Linked DNA regions of Homo sapiens: all the other regions are reported to be linked to region 1. Evidence: microRNA targets listed by miRTarBase, many of them from high-throughput screens and not tested one by one. Region 1 holds a microRNA gene; each other region holds the end of a gene's coding sequence.

Region 1 (3,516 bases):
TAAGGCATTTAATGGCTTTTCCTAAAAAATAATGCAAGCAGTTCTTAACCCTAACAATGAGGGATAGAGTAGGTGTCCTTACCTACACTTGTTACTATAAGTGATATATTTATATAAAGAGATGTATGTAAAGGAAATTCATTCACTCATTCATTTATGTACCTAACCATTATTCCTTCATCAGTTCTTGTTAAGCACTTACTATATTAGGCCCTGTATACATTTTACATGAATTATCTCCTAACCTTATAACAATGGTGTGTAAAGAAACTAATATTATCCATTTTATAGATGATAAATTCATGATTAGGGATATTAATTATGATGTCCAAATTTGCACAGGTGGCAAATGATACATTTGAAATCTGAACCCACACAATCTAATTCAAGAGTTACATTGCCACTACTTCAAAAAATGTGGTTTATTTTATAGGCAAAGAAAAGGCACTGAATTGAATATTATGACTAAGCTTGTGATCTTAAAAGATTTAGGTTCTGAGTTGGACCTGATTAAAAATTCCAGCTCCACCAATTACTGATTACATGAACCTGGTGGGAGTTGTTCAGTCTTTCCATACTCCAGGTTCTTCCTTTTTCAACAGTGTTGCTGAGCCATTAAATGAAACAGCTTTATGTAGAAAGCACTCAGCATAGTAAAATCATTATAAATGTTAGCTATTACACACTTACTTCTCTCCTTTTCTGGAGGAAGGGAGAAGATGGGTTTTTATTTTACAATCTTATTTTATAAAACTATAAGCCTGGAGTCTAGGGGGTAATGTAGGAATTGAAATATGAAATGGTTCTGATCTAAGGTAGAAACATTAGATGGATGAAAGAATATCATGCCGATAGAATTAAAAATTGTTAGGTTGGAGTATTTTATGTGGGCTGAGAGTAAAATAAATCTACAATTTGTGTGAGTGGTAGAATGTGAAGCGATTAAATAGGATAGGGAATTGGAAGGGAAGTGCTAGGACAATTCCTGGCACATAGTAGGCATGCAACAAAAGGTTGGAAGCTTGATTGCTGTGATCTGTATGCAAAGATCATATGGTTGCATAAATGTGTTAATATTGTTCTTTGGTAAGTGTTTTCCTGGTATTTAAGTGCAATGGAGCACAAAGGTTTGTTGTCTAAAGTGTAATAATGAAAGGAATATGACCATTACTCCATCTGTCATTTTCACTCATGCCTTTAAATGAGCCCTTTGCTCCAATAAAATGGTTCAGTTAATGGTTCCTTAAAGCCACACACACTTACCTGTCTTTTTGCCTTTGATGAATTTATTGCTTAAGACTTTAGCCAGTATCTCTTTTTGCCCATTCTTTTTATCTGTATTTATTTTTATATGTTTTTTGAGATGGAGTCTCACTGTGTTACCCAGGCTAGAGTGCAGTGGTACGATCTCGGCTCACTGCAACCTCCGCCTCCTGGGTTCAAGCAATTCTCCTTCCTCAGCCTCCTGAATAGGTAGGATTACAGGCATCCTCCACCATGCCTGGCTAAGTTTTGTAATTTTAGTAGAGATGGGGTTTCACCATGTTGGCCAGGCTGGTCTTGAACTCCTGATCTCAGGTGATCCACCCACCTCGGCCTCCCAGAGTGCTGAGATTGCAGGTGTGAGCCACCATGCCCCGCCTCTTTTTGCTCATTCTTTAAAGTAGGAACTTTGGTAGAACTTTCACAGCCTGTAACATATGTCTCTAGCCCTAGCTTGGTTCTAAATCCCATGGTGCCTTCTCCTTGGGAAAAACAGAGAAGGCACTATGAGATTTAGAATCAAGTTAGGACTGCAGATACAGGTTACCTATGTTACAGGCTGACAGCCACAGGTATATTGCTCTCTGCACATGTGTTTTTTCCTGGCCTCTCAATGACATTATAAGCTTCTATTATACCTCATGTGGCGTAACTGCTCTGCAATAATAGAAATTCAATAAAGGACTCTTTAATTTACAATTAAAGTCAGGATTGAATTTTGTGGAAAATCTTGATGCAAATGTACAAAAGAACTTCAAGAAAATTAGAATGCCATGAGTCATGCATTTCCTGGTACTATTCATTCTTCTTTAGGTACTATCATTCTGCTCAACCTAACATTTCTACCACCTACACCTACCATCTGGAATTATAGGCAGAGGGTATGAAGGGTGTCAAATCTTGAAAGAAAATTGCCTTTTCTCCAAAGTTGATGAAACTAAACCACAGTTGATTGGATTACTTGCTCAGCAAGAGAGTAGAACCTTGTCTTTATGAATTAAATGTCACTATTTCGTCTATTTGAAGATGACCTTATAGAGGATCATGGCTTACGACAAGTTATTTTGCTGAGGCTTGAATTTGAATTGTGTGTTGGTGAATGAGGCACTGCACACACAGTCAGAGCAGCTGCTCTCCATGCAGCTTTTCTTCTCTTTGGTTTTCTGTATCATACACAGTAATCCTTGGGTGTTATTCACATCTACTTCTTGTGGAGTAATAGTATATTATAGTGGTATCATAAATTCGGGATTTATGAAAGTTGTGGGACATACCTTCATGTGAATCTCAGTGGGTTACTGTATTTAATGATTTTTTCTCTTTTGTTTTGATTAAGAAGCTCTTTGCTGGGATGCTGAGTTCCGATTTAAATATTATACACCCTTCTTATTTCTCTCTGCAAAATTATAGCCTTGCTGATGAATTTTGCTTTACTCTTGAGTGTGGTTTACTTTTGCAGCAAATACAAATTTAGTAAGTTAAATCTAAAAGCCACAGTTAAACACAGTTCTCCTTCAGAGGTAAGAACCATAACTGTTTCTGTGGACCCCAGCAATGGTACCTTCTTTTACAAAACAATGTTCTTCTTGTTCCATAGTCAATTACACACTGAACCTCTGTGTTATCTGAGATCTAAGCAGCAGGGCTGCTCTCTCCAGAATTATATTCAGCAGCTGTCTCCTCCCTGTTAGCTTACCCATTCCTGATGTGTTGATTCCTTTCAGAAGGCTCCAATCCAAATAAGACTTAATTAGCAGCAGCCTGAAAATAGTGTGTCTGCCTTTCTTTTCCTGTATAAATCTTGTGAGTGCTAAGCTTCTAATTTCACTTTCCTCTTAATACTAACTGAAGGTCCCATAACTTTCTGTGGAATGTTGACTTTTTTTTTGAGTGAGATGAGCTCTTCTCATGCCAGTTAACTCTCATGTCGGTGACAGCACAATGGAGAAATATTAGGAAATCTGACAGGGAGAAACATTCATGTCTGATAGAGTCCAGCAACAGATTAGTGAAAGAAACTGGCCGTCCAAAATCATCCTCATTCATTTCCTTCACTAAGTCAAAGAAATCATTGTGCTCTGCTTAAGCCCCATGCTGAGTTCATTTTACTGACCCTTCCTTAATATTGGCTGAAGGGTATTTTTAATAACTTGGTATGTTTGGGAGTCAAAGGAGGCCAAGTTTCTGGCTAGGCTCAGAAGGGATAAAATAGTAATGGAATGTTTGGGGAATGAGAGGGAAAAAAAATGCCTA
Region 2 (3,516 bases), not on the chromosome of region 1:
TTCACTTAGTTCATTAAATGGACAAAAATATATTAAATCATTTTTTCCATGTGTTAAAACATTCAAGTACATTATTGAAAAGTGGCAATGAAACTCTGTCTCCACCTCTCAAAGAACTGGGATGACAGGCATGAGCCACAGTGCCCAGCCCTGTTTCTGAAGTTTTTACAGAGAAGGAAGGTGACTGGGGATAAACTGGGATTAAGCCTAGATCGCTCCCAGTGCTGTCTGGCTTTTGAATCCTATGTCTCTTAACTGAATAAGATTCTGAAGTCATAAAGATTCAGGGGCTCTCAAGCACAGAGAAGCACTTTCTCCATTCATTATACTCCTTTTCTAAGAGAAATTAACACAGTGATCTGACACCTACTGCAGAATTTTCCAATTAACCGAACTCCTACTACCAGCAATTTATGTGAACAAAAACTTTTGAGACTATTTCCATCAATGTAACTATGTTCAAAAGGCTATTACTAATAGCTGTAAATTAAGGTTTGTAGTGATGAAATAACATCTGAGATTGACAATATTTCAGTGGAAAAGAAAAAAAAAGATAGGTGAAGCAAATACAGCCAAGTTTTATAATTATTAATCTAGGGGATAGGCATTGTGAGGTTCACCGTATTACTCCATGTTACTTTTGTGTGGGCTTGAGATTTTCATAATGAGACTTTTTATTAAAACAAACGAGCTTTAGGAAATACAGTTCATCATTAATATAGGTCTATGGCTTTATGAATAGGACAGAAAGCTTTGCTGAAAGAAATTAAGGCTGATCTTGAATCTGGGCTCCTTACTAGGTTTGCAAAAACCATTTTTCTTTTTCAAAGGAAGGAAATAACACAAATCCATACACTATCTGAGAGGTGAACATACAATAGATTTTTAAACTTTAGCTTAAAATTAGAGAAATCTAATTTTTTCAGAAAAAAAAAATCACCATGTTGTATCCTGACCTGGACACAGAGGCTGTATTACTTGGAAAACGTGAATGTGGATACTAGTTTAGCTTTTAGTTCAGAAGAAATAAGGGAAGAGCGTCGATTCCAAGGATCCAGATTCCTTAATCTTTTTCTCAGATTTAAGGAGTTTTTCTCACAGGGTTTTAACTCTGTACTGTCAGAGGCATGTGAACCAGAGCAACTCCTGTCTTGAATAGCAGCTGGGTAAAATGAGGCTGAGACCTGCCAGGCTGCATTCTCAGATGGTTAAGGCATTCTAGGTCACAGGATAAGACAGGAGGTCGGCACAAGATTCAGGTCATAAAGATCTTGCTGATAAAACAGGTTGCAGTAAAGAAGCCGACTAAAACCCACCAAAACCAAGATGGCAATGAGAGTGACCTCTGGTCTTCTCACTGCTACACCCCCACCAGCGCCATGACAGTTTACAAATGCCATGGCAATGTCAGGACGTTAGCCTATATGGTCTGAAAGGGGCAGGCATGAATAATCCACCCCTTGATTAGCATATCACCAAGAAATAACCATAAAAATGGGCAGCCAGCAGCCCTCGGGGCTGCTTTGTCTATGGAGTAGCCATTCTTTTATTCCTTTACTTTCCTAATAAACTTGCTTTCACTTTACTCTGTGGACCTGCCTGGAATTCTTTCTTGCGCAAGATCCAAGAACCTTCTCTCACGGTCTGGATCAGGACCCCTTTCCTGTAACAGTACTGCCAGTTACAGAAGTAAGCAGATGGAGGTCTCTTTCTGAAGGTCATACCTCAAACAAAATCAATCCTTTTTTGTGGTGCAGAAACCAGTCCACCCCCAGAGGACACAAAATATGCTGGGCTGAGGCCTCTTCCTCCCTGGCCCCTTCTCTGTTCGCCGTCTCCCCTATGGGCCTCTCAGGCTCCTCTCTGCCATGCTTTCCCCACTGGGTCCATCATGACAGCCTACGCTGGGATCTCAGGGATCCAAAAAGCAAAAGCACCCCCTGGGTCTATGGGGACAATCATTCTTGTTCTTATGCAAAGTCTGGCTTGGGGAACTGTAATTTCGATCTAAGTCACTGGTACTGGATTAGAAATAAAAGAGGAGTTAGACAGCAACAAACTCTCCTACTTTATTTATTTTGTATACATTTCATGATCCTGGGGATTACATTGACATTACTTTTGTCTCTACTTTTTCTTCAAATAGAGATTAAGACTCAGTTAAAAATGTACTTTATTAACACTGATGCCATGAAAACTTCTTTTTAAAAATGAGGTATTTGGCTTACTGTCCCAAACAGTAGAGGTTTGGGCAAACTGCAGAAATGGTCTAGTAAGTAAGAAAATGAAAGTGAATACACTGAAACATAAAACAGAAGCAGGATTTGACAATATGCTGCTCTGACACCCTGAGAATCTTTACTGCAGGCAAAATAAATCCACCACCTTTTATCTCTAAAAGCAAAACCCAGCATGATTTCTTCCTAGGGCATACATTTCTATTCAGAAAAGACCACAGAATAAAGAGGTGAGTTAATATGAGAAAGGTAAAGACACTAAGATCATTCTTTTTGCCCCTTTCCCCACCCCAATAAAAAAATACTCATTAAGGGGCCACTATTTCCCTTGCTTTCAAATTATCTTAGAAAATATTTAGAATTACACAACAGCAGCATTTACAAGTGAATTTATATAGAACTGTTGTCAAGGCTCAAAATATCATGAGAGCTCTTGAAAAAAACAGTTGAGGTATTTCACATAAAAAACTGAACAATCAGGTTAGCCACGCCCAAAATGATGATGAAAACGTGGAAGATTAATTTAGGCCATGTCAGACGCTCTTCTTGGTGGAGGGAAATTATATAGATGAGAGATGGGTATATGAATACAAAGGCCAGTCCACATGCTGCTCCTGAATATCTGCAAAATAAAAGCTTTTGGGGTTAATATTCATCTTGCACTTTGCTTTTTACAATTAAGGTAAACATAGTACAATTTAAATCCTCCTCAGTCTGATAGCTCAACAAAAATTATTTTTGATTCATTTGTTGTTGACATAAAACATCTGGGTTTAAAACTTACTTTACTTGCTAAGTTAATATAAAATATGATTTCCTGCTCATCTTTATAGCATCTGCTTAACAAAGACTTTTTATTCATCCCTCAAATCTCTGTAGTTCCTCTGTATTTGGTGATTGTGGCTACTTCCTCAGAAACATCTGGAGCTAGGCCTCCTATCTTTGATCTTTTATAAACTAATTACTCATTCTCAGTTTTTGAGGGACCGTTAGCATCCCGGTTTAAGTATAAGAACAGATAAATGCTACCATGGCATTCAGCATGATTACGAAAGATAATAACAAAAATACTTAAACATGAGACTGTGACAGAGAAATATGCACTTTCTTCTCCTTTTCTCTATACTTGGGTTTTCTTGAGGAACAGTTCAATAGGAACTGGTAAGCCCTTTATATTCAATAAGCATCAGGCTAACAATCTCCCCTTCTTGTTCCTTGTTACTTTCTTAGGTAAGAGTGTTCCAAAAAAAATGACTCCTTCCTGCTGTCCATAGTAAGA
Region 3 (3,516 bases), not on the chromosome of region 1:
CCTTAATCTTTATCTTAATTTTCTTGAAAATACTTTCCATTACTTTAGTAAGGGAAGGATTTGTTGCTGCTGTTGTTCCAGTGGCACTGAAGTGCCAGAGACAGCTTCCTGGTTAGCACTGTTTTATGAGTTTCTGTTGGCTTGTAGATTTCCCTAACTAGACCGTGAGTGCTTTGAACTCAGGAATTGGGAATTGGATCTTCTTCATCTTGGTCTCCATGGTGCTTTTGTAATTCCAGAAATGTGGTGGATACTTATATATGTCCATGAAACTACTGATTGAACGAATAGAAATGTAGATTGATATTCTTCTGCTTGTGTAGTACTTGGCATTCAATATTAGAAAAAAATCCAGTCAGTTATGTTCTATGTTAACGTTTTAAGGAAGTCATTAATGTCACTTTATTTTGACTTTTATTTCTTTTCTTGTAGGTGAAAATGCGTGGAATAGACTTTTTTGAATTTCTTTGTCAACTAATCCTGAAAGAAGCGGATCAAAAAGAACAGTTTTCCCAAGGATCTCCAAGCAACTGTCTGGAAACTTCTTTGGCAGAGATATTTCCTTTAGGAAAAAATCACAGCTCTAAAGTTAATTCAGACAGCGGTATTCCAGGATTAGCAGCCAGTGTCTTAGTTGTGAGTCACGGTGCTTACATGAGAAGTCTGTTTGATTATTTTCTGACTGACCTTAAGTGTTCCTTACCAGCCACTCTGAGCAGATCTGAACTTATGTCAGTCACTCCCAATACAGGGATGAGTCTCTTTATCATAAACTTTGAGGAAGGAAGAGAAGTTAAACCAACGGTTCAGTGTATTTGTATGAACCTACAGGATCATCTAAATGGACTGACTGAAACTCGCTAAGGTTAAATCTGCATCAAAATCTAACCATTTTGAGCCTCTGAAGGGAGTGCCATTGGCTTTATTTACTTCTCTCCTCTGCTAGTTCTGATTTGGAAACAGTTAAAAGCCAATTTTTAGCTCCAGTGGAACCATAGCCACATAAAACTTTAATGGACAACCATATAGAATTAACTTATTTTGTCCAAGTACAGTTGGCATTTTCCAGAATAATTTTACCACCCTGCTAGATGTCATCTCTGGATTGCACATGGATGATGAAGGAACTCAGCATTGAAAGTTGGGGGATTAGTAACCTTGTTACAACGGTTTCTTTTTCATTTTAGCCTATTTTAATGGCTATTGGTAAGATACTGTATGTTTTTAGTATCTCATCCAGTGCTTAGAAGAAAGAATGGTTTATAATTCCCAGTACATGTTTATATTGACTGTGTTATATTTTTAAATCCTTTAAATAAAAAATCCTTATAAGTTTATGTAAAGCAAAATAACACTAACATGTTTTACGTATAAATCAACTATTGGAATTTTTTATTCTAGAGGGCTTGAAATGTGGATGAATACAGATTATGATTGCAGAATGGTCTGGGGGAAGAAGTTAAAACATTTGATTTAAATACAGTAAAGAAAGAATCTTGGAGCAGAAGATAGAAGAACAGCCTTTTCTAAATAATGCCTTGCCAAAGTCAAGTCAATGGAAACCAGGAAAGCCAAAAAAATGAAGAATATCCACTTGCTTCTTATCTAACCTGTAGGCTGAAGAATTTCCAGTTTGAGGAAGGCTCTAAAGAAAGTAAACAGTTAACAGAACACCACACAGTAATCAGAATAAAAGAGGGGCCTTCTTTGTAAAGAATGGTGCTCTGGGCCGGGCCCAGTGGCTCACACCTGTAATCCCAGCACTTTGGGAGGCTGAGGCGGGCGGATCACAAGGTCAGGAATTCTAGACCAGCCTGGCCAACAATGGTGAAACCCTGTCTCTACTACAAATACAAAAAAGCCAGGCGTGGTAGCAGGCGCCTGTAATCCCAGCTACTTGGGAGGTTGAGGCAGGAGAATCGCTTGAACCCGGGAGGTGGAGGTTGCAGTGAGCCGAGATCGCACCACTTCACTCCAGCCTAGGTGACAGAGGGGATGACAGAGGGTGCTCTGCGGGCAGGGAAGGCGGGGTGGTTGGGGGGGAGAGAATGTTGCTCTGATAACCACAGCTGTGGTTATTTTGTGGCAGGTACAGGTGAGGTTGCCTCTTCTTTCCACCAGATGGCACTGGAGAAAAGGGATTTTGATTAACTTAATTTTATACACAAGATTGGTCTTTCAGAAATCTTTATCTAAATGAAGAAACTGTTCTACATGTAGTTCGCTTTTAAGTCACCATGTTGCTAAATGCTGTGAGTCTCAACTTTAAAGAGGGTTAATACTAAAGTTGTCAGTTAAGGCTATAGTCACATATAGTCAAAATTTACTTTGACATCATTTTAAATCATATGTAAAATTCAGTATTATATTGTTCTTAGTGTGTCTAGCACTACCAGTTTTCTACCAGTATTGAAACAGGGCACGTGTTTGAGCATCAGAGGAAGTATACTGTAAATAAAAATTTGAAAAATAAGCAAAAAGGACAGACAATAATTATCTCCATTCCCACCATACTGAAGTCATCTTTCCACTTTTTTTTTTAAAGAAACAAAACATAAAGATAAAAGTAGAGTTCTCTTTAACCAGCTCTCACAGTCCTGTTCCCTCCAGAGGCAGCCACTGCAGTGAGTCTGTGTATATGTTCACCTGTTCATCTGCTTGCAATGTTCATCTGTTCCTTATATTTTCACCTAGTGTCTGGAAGGAGATGGTACTGTTTTGGTGCTTTAAAAATAAATATCAAGCCATCTGTGTTCTTTATTTTTACTTATGTCTTGGAGGCATCTCTGTGTTGATATATATAGATCTAGTTAATTATAACCACTCTATTCTATTAAATATAGCACATTTTTGTTTATTAGTGGGCATTTAGGTATATTCAGTTTTTATTTTCTTTGCTTTTTTTCTTTTTTTTTTTTTTTGGAGACAGAGTCTCTCTCTGTTGCCCAGGCTGGGGTGCAATGGCGTGATCTTGGCTCACTGCAACCTCCACCTCTCGGGTTCAAGCAATTCTTGTGCCTCAGCCTCCTGAGTAGCTGGGACTACAGGCATGCACCACCACGCCTGGCCTTTTTTTTTTTTTTAGTAGAGACGGGGTTTCGCCATGTTGGCCAGGCTGGTCTTGAACTTCTGACCTCAGGTGATCCACCTGCCTTGGCCTTCCAAAGTGCTGGGATTGCAGGCATAAGCCACCGTGCCTGGCCTATGATGCATTTTTTTAATATGTGTTCTTAATTTTTAAGACAAACCAATATACCTTATCCTTTATGGGGTTTTTTTGGTGTGTATCTTTAAGAAGACTTCTCTACCATGAGGTCATACAGTAATGTCTTCTTACAGTTTTTGAGAACTTCTGAATGTCAAATCTTGAAATTGAAATTTGCTTTTTATAGTATAAGGTAAGAATTTAATTTTTTTTTTCATGTGGTTGAAACAGTTATCCCAACACCATTGTAAAGGCTGTTCTTTCCCAATTGGTTTGTGGTGTGTGCTCTCAGGCCTCACACCCCCTCATTT
Region 4 (3,516 bases), not on the chromosome of region 1:
TTGAACAGGTTTTGAATGTTATTTTTATCAAGTTAAAACAAACAAAAAATACAGCTTCTTACTCTGTTTTCTCTTCTTTTAGAAAACCCATGGGATCAGAGCCAGTTCCTAAATCCAGGATCAACCTGCCTGCCCCGAATCCTGATCACGTTGGGGGCTACAAACTGGCAGTTGCTACATTTGCAGGGATTGAAAACAAATTTGGACTTTACCTACCTCTCTTCAAGCCATCAGTATCTACCTCAAAGGCTATTGGTGGAGGCCCATAGGAAGATCAGCCCTGGGATAGTGCTGTCTTTTTGTGGGTACTGCAGTAAAGAACATCCCTCCTGGGAATGAAGCAATGCTTCATCCCTTTTACGTCCATCTCTTGTTTAAATTCAAGTCCAGGCTTTTTTATCATGTGAAATCATTCATTTTCTGGGTGTTTTCTTAACCAGATCATTGTGAAATTATTCATAATTATTATTTGGCCCTCTGCCCAGAAACCTTTGTTTGCATCTGAAAATTGATGGGATTTGGTCAACACTAACATGATTTGGGGAAAGGAGCAAGTCAGAATAGAAATTAGTACTCCCCTCCTTGAACTAGGATTGTAGTCCCAAAGAGGCTACTGTAAGGCAATCATGGTGCTCAGAGCAGTGTTTCGTGTGTGTTTTAAACTGGTAGGAAACTAGGTGCATATTTATAAAAATAAAAAACACTGGGAGAAATGAAAAAATATATATCAAATATATTCAGCCTGGCTTCAAATTGTAAGCATGCACAAATTCTGTCTCTGGATTATATTATGAAGCTTTTATGTGAAACATGTTTCTTTGTAATGAAAACCACATTGGAGATGTTTAGTAATCATATTGTTACTGGTACCAAGACTACTAGGGAAATGCCTTTGTACTTTAGGGAAGTACTTTTGGCATTTTACTGTACAGACAGAAAAAACTGAGATGTAGCCCCTCTCCTGGAAGTGCTAATTTTGAAAAACTGCTCATATGATGTACATGTACTGATTACTGCCTATTTTAATAAACACTCTTGAAAAATGCATGTTGCCCTGTTGCTGCCTGCCCTATTCTCCTCATCTCCCCATCATTGGTACCCACTTGCTTTTAAAATCCACTTTATCTTGAATAATGTAAGACAAATATGTTCTGACATAAGTATTTAATTCATGTTGCCTTGCATAATGGTCAGAGGCGCATGAATTTGTGAAGGTGGAAATAAACTATTTGTAAAGTGATTGAGTTGTTTGGTCTTGTGCATGTTGCATGGTGAGTGGATACAGTAATTGTCATTATTGGCCTACATGTTTTGTTTTGAGGGGAATTTTATTCATATTGGCATGGATATATCCTCAGTATCTTTCAAGGTAATGTGTTCCCTCATTTTCATGGTTCAAAGTGAGTACAAGAAACTGTATTTAACCATAGATAAGCAAAGAACTAGCAAACTGACACCTTAGTTCTAGTCATTCCAGCACTTTCGGCAGTTTATTGTGATGATGAAGGTCACATAGTTTTAGTAGAACTTAGCCATGAAAACTGGTATGAAATGGCAGTCGTATTTTCTAATCCAGTCTGACTCTTGCACACACCAAAACCATATACCACTGTATCTAACATTTGCTATTATTTGGCTAGCACTATAATGATTTGGGGAAAGAAGCTAGTCTTGAACAGGATTTAAGGCTATTCTTAGACCGTGATCATGCTTCCAAAGAGGCTACTAATTAATCTGTTGGCAGTCTGTATGAACATTTTGAGTTTCCAAAGTTTTTCTCCATAGCAGACAGCCATTTGTCAGTCTGTTTCTGTAAGTCAACAGGCTGACATTTGAAGTTACAGTTTAAAATTGGCAAGAGTCAATACCCGCCATAAATGGCTGATTTTTTAGAGGGGGAGGGTCAGGAGGGGAGTGAAGAGCTTTGTCTTCTTCACTAGAAACAGGACAGATAACATACATGGCTCCTTCTGTGATTATTTGACAAAACCAAAGGGGAATCCCCTCCCCAAATTCAGTGTGATAAGTGATAAATATCTGTATTATAATCTCAGAGACTAGTCACAGAACTCCAAATATGTGTTAGAAATGTGGTTGGTGTTAGAACAAAACATGCCAACTTTGGTCTTTTGAATGTGGAGAAAAGGCCCTGCATCTCTGCATTCCTTTTCTTCACTTGTTTGAGATTTTATGGCAGATCAAGTTTTCTTGGTAAAAACACTGACCAAAAATCTCATAACTTGTCCATGGCCCTGCCTGCCTCTTAAAGAGCAGTTGCATTTAATGAGAGAGCACCCTGTCTTCATTTAGCCTTGTCAGTCACTGAGAACAATTCTCTTTAGTGAATAAGAAGCCAGGGGCCCCAGGAAGCCAATGGAGGTAGGGCCACATGTCTGTGTGTCCTTAAAATCCTTGCCTTATTCTGTTCAGGGATAGGCAGTAATGGGAGACTTTGAAGGAGGCCTAATTTCCCTCTGGGTTCTGCTCAGTGGGTGGTGTTACTGTGACATGCCCTGAACAGGACTGCAATCACCGTGTGGTGAAAACCACTGTAAAATTCGCTCTGGGTTTCCCTTCTTTCTGGTGACAGCACAATCCGTTGTCGTCGTCAGTGGTGTGGCTGTTGTTGGTGCCGTGGGTCGTTTCCCTCTGTAGGGCTGAGGAACTGAAGCTGGTAACTCCCACATGCCTGCCTGCTTGCCTGCCTACGTGAGGGGGCCAGCCTCCTCTGCTCTGCCTGCCCCGAGTCTCCACTCTGCTCCTGGTCCACCACGTGATTCCTTGGGGGTTGGGAGAGAGGTCTGATTTTCATAGCAGCTTTTTTTTTTTTTCAAGGAGGGGAAAAATGTGAAGCTGACCACAAAGTGAACACACTGATTCTTGGGTTCCAGTCATGGCTGGGTTTCTTGAGGCTGGGTGGCATGCTGTCGCCAAGCTCCTGCTACACCTCGTAACCCACAACCATTTGCTGAGCTCCCTGGGGTTGCCTTAATCCCAGAAGCCAGGGTCGCACAGAGGAAAATAAGAATTCTGGCACAGAAAGGAGTCATTTAAGTGCTTATTGCATTTCAAGCTTTAGTTTCTACTTAGCTAAAATATTTACCATTGCTGGAAAACAATGTTTAAAATGTTGTGCTTATATGTTATTTAATGGCGTGGCCTATGTAAACCTCAGGATGCTTACATTTTGACAGTCTTCTGGAAATGTCTAACAGCACATAACCCAGCGAGTGGGGAATCAAAACGGGAACAAATGGCGCTTGAAACTGTTTGTAACCTCCTCCAACTAGGTATTCAGAATGCAAGTCATGCTGGAATGCTTCAGGTAGAGGGAGATCTCAAAAAAGAAATTTGATGAGTCCTGTCTTATGGCCCCATTTATCAACCTTCCAAATAAACTGTCCCTAAAAGTCATCATGTGCCTTTTACCGCAGAAGGCATACTTGTGGGGATGAATTTGTATCCTTGCCACTGAGCAAAATCCCATTTTCAAATCAGGGTAATCAAATGCTTTCA
Region 5 (3,516 bases), not on the chromosome of region 1:
TCCTCTCGAGGAGTATCTTTGTGGTGTTCTCTGTATTTCCTGAATCTGAATGTTGGCCTACCTTGCTAGATTGGGGAAGTTCTCCTGGATAATATCCTGCAGAGTGTTTTCCAACTTGGTTCCATTCTCCCTGTCACTTTCAGGTACACCAATCAGACGTAGATTTTGTCTTTTCACATAGTCCCATATTTCTTGGAGGCTTTGTTCATTTCATTCTGTTTTCTCTAAACTTCCCTTCTCGCTTCATTTCATTCATTTCATCTTCCATGGCTGATACCCTTTCTTCCATTTGATTGCATCGGCTCCTGAGGCTTCTGCATTCTTCACGTAGTTCTCCAGCCTTGGCTTTCAGCTCCATCAGCTCCTTTAAGCACTTCTCTGTATTGGTTATTCTAGTTATACATTTGTCTAAATTTTTTTCAAAGTTTTTAACTTCTTTGCCTTTGGTTTGAATTTCCTCCTGTAGCTCGGAGTAGTTTGATCGTCTGAAGCCTTCTCTCAACTCGTCAAAGTCATTCTCCGTCCAGCTTTGTTCTGTTGCTGGTGAGGAACTGTGTTCCTTTGGAGGAGGAGAGGCGCTCTGCTTTTTAGAGTTTCCAGTTTTTCTGCTCTGTTTTTTCCCCATCTTTGTGGTTTTATCTACTTTTGGTCTTTGATGATGGTGATGTACAGATGAGTTTTTGGTGTGGATGTCCTTTCTGTTTGTTAGTTTTCCTTCTAACAGATAGGGCCCTCAGCTGCAGGTCTGTTGGAGTTTGCTAGAGGTCCACTCCAGACCGTTTGTCTGGGTATCAGCAGCAGTGGCTGCAGAACAGCGGATTTTCGTGAACCACGAATGCTGCTGTCTGATCGTTCCTCTGGAAGTTTTGTCTCAGAGGAGTACCTGGCCGTGTGAGGTGTCAGTCTGCCCCTAATGGGGGGTGCCTCCCAGTTAGGCTGCTCGGGGGTCAGGGATCAGGGACCCACTTGAGGCAGTCTGCCTGTTCTCAGATCATCTCTAGCTGCATGCTGGGAGAACCACTGCTCTCTTCCAAGCTGTCAGGGACATTTAAGTCTGCAGAGGTTACTGCTGTCTTTTTGTTTGTCTGTGCCCTGCCCCCAGAGGTGGCGCCTACAGAGGCAGGCAGGCAGGCCTCCTTGAGCTGTGGTGGGCTCCACCCAGTTCAAGCTTCCCGGCTGCTTTGTTTACCTAAGCAAGCCTGGGCAATGGCAGGTGCCCCTCCCCCAGCCTCACTGCCGCCTTGCAGTTTGATTTCAAACTGCTGTGCTAGCAATCAGCGAGACTCCGTGGGCGTAGTACCCTCCGAGGCAGGTGTGGGATATAATCTCCTGGTGCGCCGTTTTTTTTAAGCCCGTTGCAAAAGCGCAGTATTAGTGTGGAAGTGACCCGATTTTCCAGGTGCCGTCTGTCACCCCTTTCTTTGACTAGGAAAGGGAACTCCCTGAACCCTTGCGCTTCCCGAGTGAGGCAATGCCTCACCCTCTTCGGCTCACGCAGTGTGCTGCACCCACTGTCCTGCGCCCACTCTCTGGCACTCCCTAGTGAGATGAACCCGGTACCTCAGATGGAAATGCAGAAATCACCTGTCTTCTGCGTCACTCACGCTGGGAGCTGTAGACCGGAGCTGTTCCTATTCGGCCATCTTGGCTGCCCGCAAAAGATCAAAATTTTAAGGAAAGGGCATTGCTAGGAACAATGAATGCCTGAAATCACCATGTATAACCATGAAATTGTACTATGTGGGGGGTGTGATATATGTGTGTTTATTTTATTCTACATTAGTACTTCATTTAAAAATAACTAAGGAACATAATTCAATAACTAGATCCTGCCTTAGAAAACCTTTTGCCATGAATGACAAATTCATGTAATAAAGACTGTTTTTAACCCACCAAGTAAGTATATTCTGTTTCTCCCCCCGGCCCCCCAGCTGGGATCTTGCTTTTTTAAAGAAAAAAACATAAAATTAGCCTAATGTATTAGGGTTCTCCATAGAAACCTAGCGATTAGGAGAGATGATGTATTATGAAAATTGGCTTAAGTGATTATGATGGAGGCTGAGAAGTACCACCATCTGCCATTTGCACGCTGGAGACCCAGGAGAGTGGTCTAAAGGCTTCAGAACCAGGAGCCCTGATGTCCAAGGGCAGGAGCAGATGGATACATCTCAGCAAGAAGACAGCATTTGCCCCTCCTCTACCTTTTCATTCTATTCAGGCCCTCATCAGATTGAACGATGCCACCCACATTGGCACACTGGTGAGGGAGGACCTTCTTTACTCAGTCTACTGATTCAAATTCAAATGCTAATCATCTTTTCCAGAAACAGCCTCACAGACAAACCCAGAAATAATGTTTTACCAGCTATCAATCATCTGAGCATCCCTTAGCCAGTCAAGCTGACATATAAATAAAGTTAACCATCACACCTAATTAAACAAAAGTGCTACTAATTATATTGATGTGTTTTGTTCTCTAACTCCTTGTAAAAGCTTCTGTCGTTCCTATGGGAAGTAAAATATAGTTGTTCTCTAATCAAGTGTAGACAAGTTTCCGTTTCTTAGCCAAAATATAATCTTCTTTAATATAAAATAAGTCCACATGATGTATAATGGTAAAATATTTTCAAATATCTCACATTTGTTATACAAATAAGGACTGTATTTGATTATTTTTGATTGCCACCCAATAAATCCAGACAATAAACATAATTATCTCTACACCCAATAATGAGCATTGATTCCAGGACCACAGGAGAAGAGAAGACTTCTCCAGGAAGTTCATAAACACTTTGCAATTGTCCACTCTGAGATTCCAAGATCCACACTTTCCCATCAGTAGATGCTGCTGCCAGCAACATTTCATTGCTGCCATTGTAGTTATGGAAAGCAAACGGTGTTGCATAGACCCTTGAAGTAGTTTCAAATTTCCACTGCAGGTGACCTTTCATGTTACAACAGTAGATAAAGCAATCATGGGAACCAAAAAATATTTTTTGCTCTGATGGTGAGGTACACGGGGATGAAAAGATTGGTCCACTGGTAGAGAACTGCCAAACCTATAACAAGTAATAAAAATAAATATAATTCATTCATCTAATTGCTCCAATTCTCCCTTAAAGCTCTATGAGGTTCTTAATGCAAATCTAAGAGATATAGGCTATTTGAATGGTAACTATACACAGACAAAATGGCTTTTTCTGAAAAGTAGCACTATCATACTAGACCTCTGTCCCAGTGGTAAAATGTAAAATCTAAGACAAAATATACTGGAGTGTTGTTACTATGTGATTCACTGCCGTGCATAATAAGTAAAATTAATTTTGAACTCCATTCAAGAGTTAGTATTATTCAGAGACACTGAGTTCAAAGGTAAAACTACATTGAGTTTTCAATATTATCTTTTTTTAATTTTTATTTATTATTATTATTTTTTTTTGAGATGGAGTCTTGCTCTGTCGCCCAGGCTGGAGTGCAGTGGCATGATCTCAGCTCACTGCATCCTCTGCTTGCCAG
Region 6 (3,000 bases), not on the chromosome of region 1:
ATCTCACACCCTGACGTGGGACGCTATTTCTCAGAGTTTACTGGCACTCACTACATCCCAAACGCAGAGCTGGAGATCCGGTATCCAGAAGATCTGGAGTTTGTCTATGAAACGGTGCAGAATATTTACAGTGCAAAGAAAGAGAACATAGATGAGTAAAGTCTAGAGAGGACATTGCACCTTTGCTGCTGCTGCTATCTTCCAAGAGAACGGGACTCCGGAAGAAGACGTCTCCACGGAGCCCTCGGGACCTGCTGCACCAGGAAAGCCACTCCACCAGTAGTGCTGGTTGCCTCCTACTAAGTTTAAATACCGTGTGCTCTTCCCCAGCTGCAAAGACAATGTTGCTCTCCGCCTACACTAGTGAATTAATCTGAAAGGCACTGTGTCAGTGGCATGGCTTGTATGCTTGTCCTGTGGTGACAGTTTGTGACATTCTGTCTTCATGAGGTCTCACAGTCGACGCTCCTGTAATCATTCTTTGTATTCACTCCATTCCCCTGTCTGTCTGCATTTGTCTCAGAACATTTCCTTGGCTGGACAGATGGGGTTATGCATTTGCAATAATTTCCTTCTGATTTCTCTGTGGAACGTGTTCGGTCCCGAGTGAGGACTGTGTGTCTTTTTACCCTGAAGTTAGTTGCATATTCAGAGGTAAAGTTGTGTGCTATCTTGGCAGCATCTTAGAGATGGAGACATTAACAAGCTAATGGTAATTAGAATCATTTGAATTTATTTTTTTCTAATATGTGAAACACAGATTTCAAGTGTTTTATCTTTTTTTTTTAAATTTAAATGGGAATATAACACAGTTTTCCCTTCCATATTCCTCTCTTGAGTTTATGCACATCTCTATAAATCATTAGTTTTCTATTTTATTACATAAAATTCTTTTAGAAAATGCAAATAGTGAACTTTGTGAATGGATTTTTCCATACTCATCTACAATTCCTCCATTTTAAATGACTACTTTTATTTTTTAATTTAAAAAATCTACTTCAGTATCATGAGTAGGTCTTACATCAGTGATGGGTTCTTTTTGTAGTGAGACATACAAATCTGATGTTAATGTTTGCTCTTAGAAGTCATACTCCATGGTCTTCAAAGACCAAAAAATGAGGTTTTGCTTTTGTAATCAGGAAAAAAAAAAATTAATGAACCTTAAAAAAAAAAAAAAAGGTTTTGAAGGGAAAAAAAGTGGTTTCACACCTCTTGTTATTCCTTAGAGTCACTTCAAGGCCTGTTTGAATGTGGCAGGTTAGAAAGAGAGAGAATGTCTTTCATTTGAAGAGTGTTGGACTTGTGTGAAAGGAGATGTGCGTGTTGGAATCTGCTTTTCCAAGCCGCCAGGGTCCTGACGGCAGCAGGACGAAGCCTGTTGTGGCGTCTTCTGGGAAAGCCTGACCGTGTGTTCGGACGGCACTGGCTCCTTTCCGAAGTTCTCAGTAACTGAGCCCAGAGTAACTGCACGCCTTTGTGCAGCTCTGGAGCTCCACCAACTCTCGGCCTGCCAGTTCTCAAGCGAGCTAATCTTGTCATTAATCGATAGAAGCTAACTTCCGAAGTTAGGACCTAGTTACTTTGCTCTCAACATTTAAAATAATGCAGTTGCTCTAGTGAATGGGGCGTTAGGGGCCTGTCTCTGCACCTGTCTGTCCATCTGCATGCAGTATTCTCACCCATGTTGAATGCCTGCTGCTTGTTTACCCTTTGGAAACCCTGGGGTGACCAAGGTTTGGAAAGCCACCTGAGACCACTTCATAGCAAGGGAAGGCTTTAAGCAGTTACTAGAAAGAGATGGGGATTTGGCCCCTGGCTCCTCCAGCCTGAATGAGCTATTTAATCCACTGTCCATGTTCCTCATCAGTCAAATCCAAAGTCAAAGGATTTGAACCTGCATCTGGAAACGTAACCACTCACAGCACCTGGCCCGCCAAGGTTGGGAGGATTGTACACTACTTTCATTTAAAGGGGAAAGTTTGATAATACGGAATTAATTAATATGAATGAGATGCATTAATAAGAACCTGAGCATGCTGAGAGTTGCAATTGTTGGTTTTCTGGTTTGATTGATTTCCTTTTTTCTTAGACACATCAAAGTCAAGAAAGATGGTTTTACCTTTACTGACCCAGCTGTACATATGTATCTAGACTGTTTTTAAATGTCTTTCTTCATGAATGCTTCATGGGGCTCCAGGAAGCCTGTATCACCTGTGTAAGTTGGTATTTGGGCACTTTATATTTTTCTAAAAACGTGTTTTGGATCCTGTACTCTAATAAATCATAAGTTTCTTTTTAAAAATTTTCCAAAACTTTTCTCCATTTTAAAAAGCCCTGTTATAAACGTTGAACTTTCACAATGTTAAAATGTTAAATATTTGGATATAGCAACTTCTTTTCTCTTCAAATGAATGCCAAGATTTTTTTGTACAATGATTAATAAATGGAACTTATCCAGAGAAACCACGCAAATGGCCTGCCCAATTTCGTTTGAGGACAGAAAGCCCAGCCATGACTTGAGTAGAATGTCTCTCACCTCTCTTCGGATCTAAATATGAAAAGTATGTTCTGCTGAATTTTTCTGAGCATTGGTGAGCGGACAGCCTACCTGTAAACCATGACCTCCTTGCCAAACGTTAATTTTATCAGCTCACTAGTAACCTTTGAGAATTATCTGGTTGTCATGCAAAGATTGCACTTTCTGAATTATGTTAAAACACATGTTGTAAAATGAGAACTGCTCATGCTTTGAAAGAAAACCAGGTTCTTCGTGCGTTCTGTTGCCGTTGATTTGAATGGCTGTGCTGTATACGATGTGTCCAGAATGTCTTCAGAGCACTGTTTCCGTGTGATGTTACTACCTACTATGTGGGAGGAAAAAAGGTTATAGGTTAAACAAAGTCAATTGACTCTATGGTGGTGTTTCTCAATACCTGTGACGCACAGTACTGTGCGTCGTGACTTTCTAAGAGAAGTGTGCAGCGGGTGTGTCATCTTGAT

What was found. The annotated mature microRNA hsa-miR-605-5p reads UAAAUCCCAUGGUGCCUUCUCCU and lies in region 1 at 1,725-1,747, shown strand. An mRNA with a match to its seed (bases 2 to 7 or 8) in the 3' UTR can be bound and repressed. Matches are read on the target gene's strand: a 7mer-m8 pairs with bases 2 to 8, a 7mer-A1 pairs with bases 2 to 7 and ends in A, and an 8mer does both.
Region 2: the mRNA of SLC38A9 is a reported target of hsa-miR-605-5p. Seed matches in the 3' UTR shown: 7mer-A1 at 2,374-2,380.
Region 3: the mRNA of TIGAR is a reported target of hsa-miR-605-5p. Seed matches in the 3' UTR shown: 7mer-m8 at 2,138-2,144.
Region 4: the mRNA of SLC25A13 is a reported target of hsa-miR-605-5p. Seed matches in the 3' UTR shown: 7mer-m8 at 514-520.
Region 5: miRTarBase lists AASDH as a target of hsa-miR-605-5p. The part of its 3' UTR that is shown has no 7-base or 8-base seed match.
Region 6: miRTarBase lists FBXO21 as a target of hsa-miR-605-5p. Seed matches in the 3' UTR shown: 7mer-m8 at 1,801-1,807.

The regions. Positions count from the first base shown.
Region 1 is chr10:51,297,864-51,301,379 of GRCh38, forward strand. It overlaps MIR605 (microRNA 605), which reads left to right and starts at 1,710; the gene lies at 1,710-1,792. The region is part of intron 2 of PRKG1 (protein kinase cGMP-dependent 1); the gene reads left to right.
Region 2 is chr5:55,623,801-55,627,316 of GRCh38, forward strand. SLC38A9 (solute carrier family 38 member 9) reads right to left here. Exons shown (of 16, transcript NM_173514.4): 16 at 2,048-2,859. The coding sequence ends at 2,694. Among named protein-coding and RNA genes, the nearest start is that of SLC38A9, 87 kb to the right of the region's middle. RefSeq lists an enhancer at 1,542-2,356.
Region 3 is chr12:4,351,828-4,355,343 of GRCh38, forward strand. TIGAR (TP53 induced glycolysis regulatory phosphatase) reads left to right here. Exons shown (of 6, transcript NM_020375.3): 6 at 433-3,516. The coding sequence ends at 864. Among named protein-coding and RNA genes, the nearest start is that of FGF23, 26 kb to the right of the region's middle.
Region 4 is chr7:96,117,944-96,121,459 of GRCh38, reverse strand. It overlaps SLC25A13 (solute carrier family 25 member 13), which reads left to right. Exons shown (of 18, transcript NM_014251.3): 18 at 83-1,240. The coding sequence ends at 269. Among named protein-coding and RNA genes, the nearest start is that of MIR591, 100 kb to the left of the region's middle.
Region 5 is chr4:56,335,733-56,339,248 of GRCh38, forward strand. AASDH (aminoadipate-semialdehyde dehydrogenase) reads right to left here. Exons shown (of 15, transcript NM_181806.4): 15 at 2,558-3,059. The coding sequence ends at 2,670. Among named protein-coding and RNA genes, the nearest start is that of AASDH, 50 kb to the right of the region's middle.
Region 6 is chr12:117,143,246-117,146,245 of GRCh38, reverse strand. FBXO21 (F-box protein 21) reads left to right here. Exons shown (of 12, transcript NM_015002.3): 12 at 1-3,000. The coding sequence ends at 159. Among named protein-coding and RNA genes, the nearest start is that of TESC-AS1, 45 kb to the right of the region's middle. RefSeq lists enhancers at 2,775-2,854, 2,255-3,000.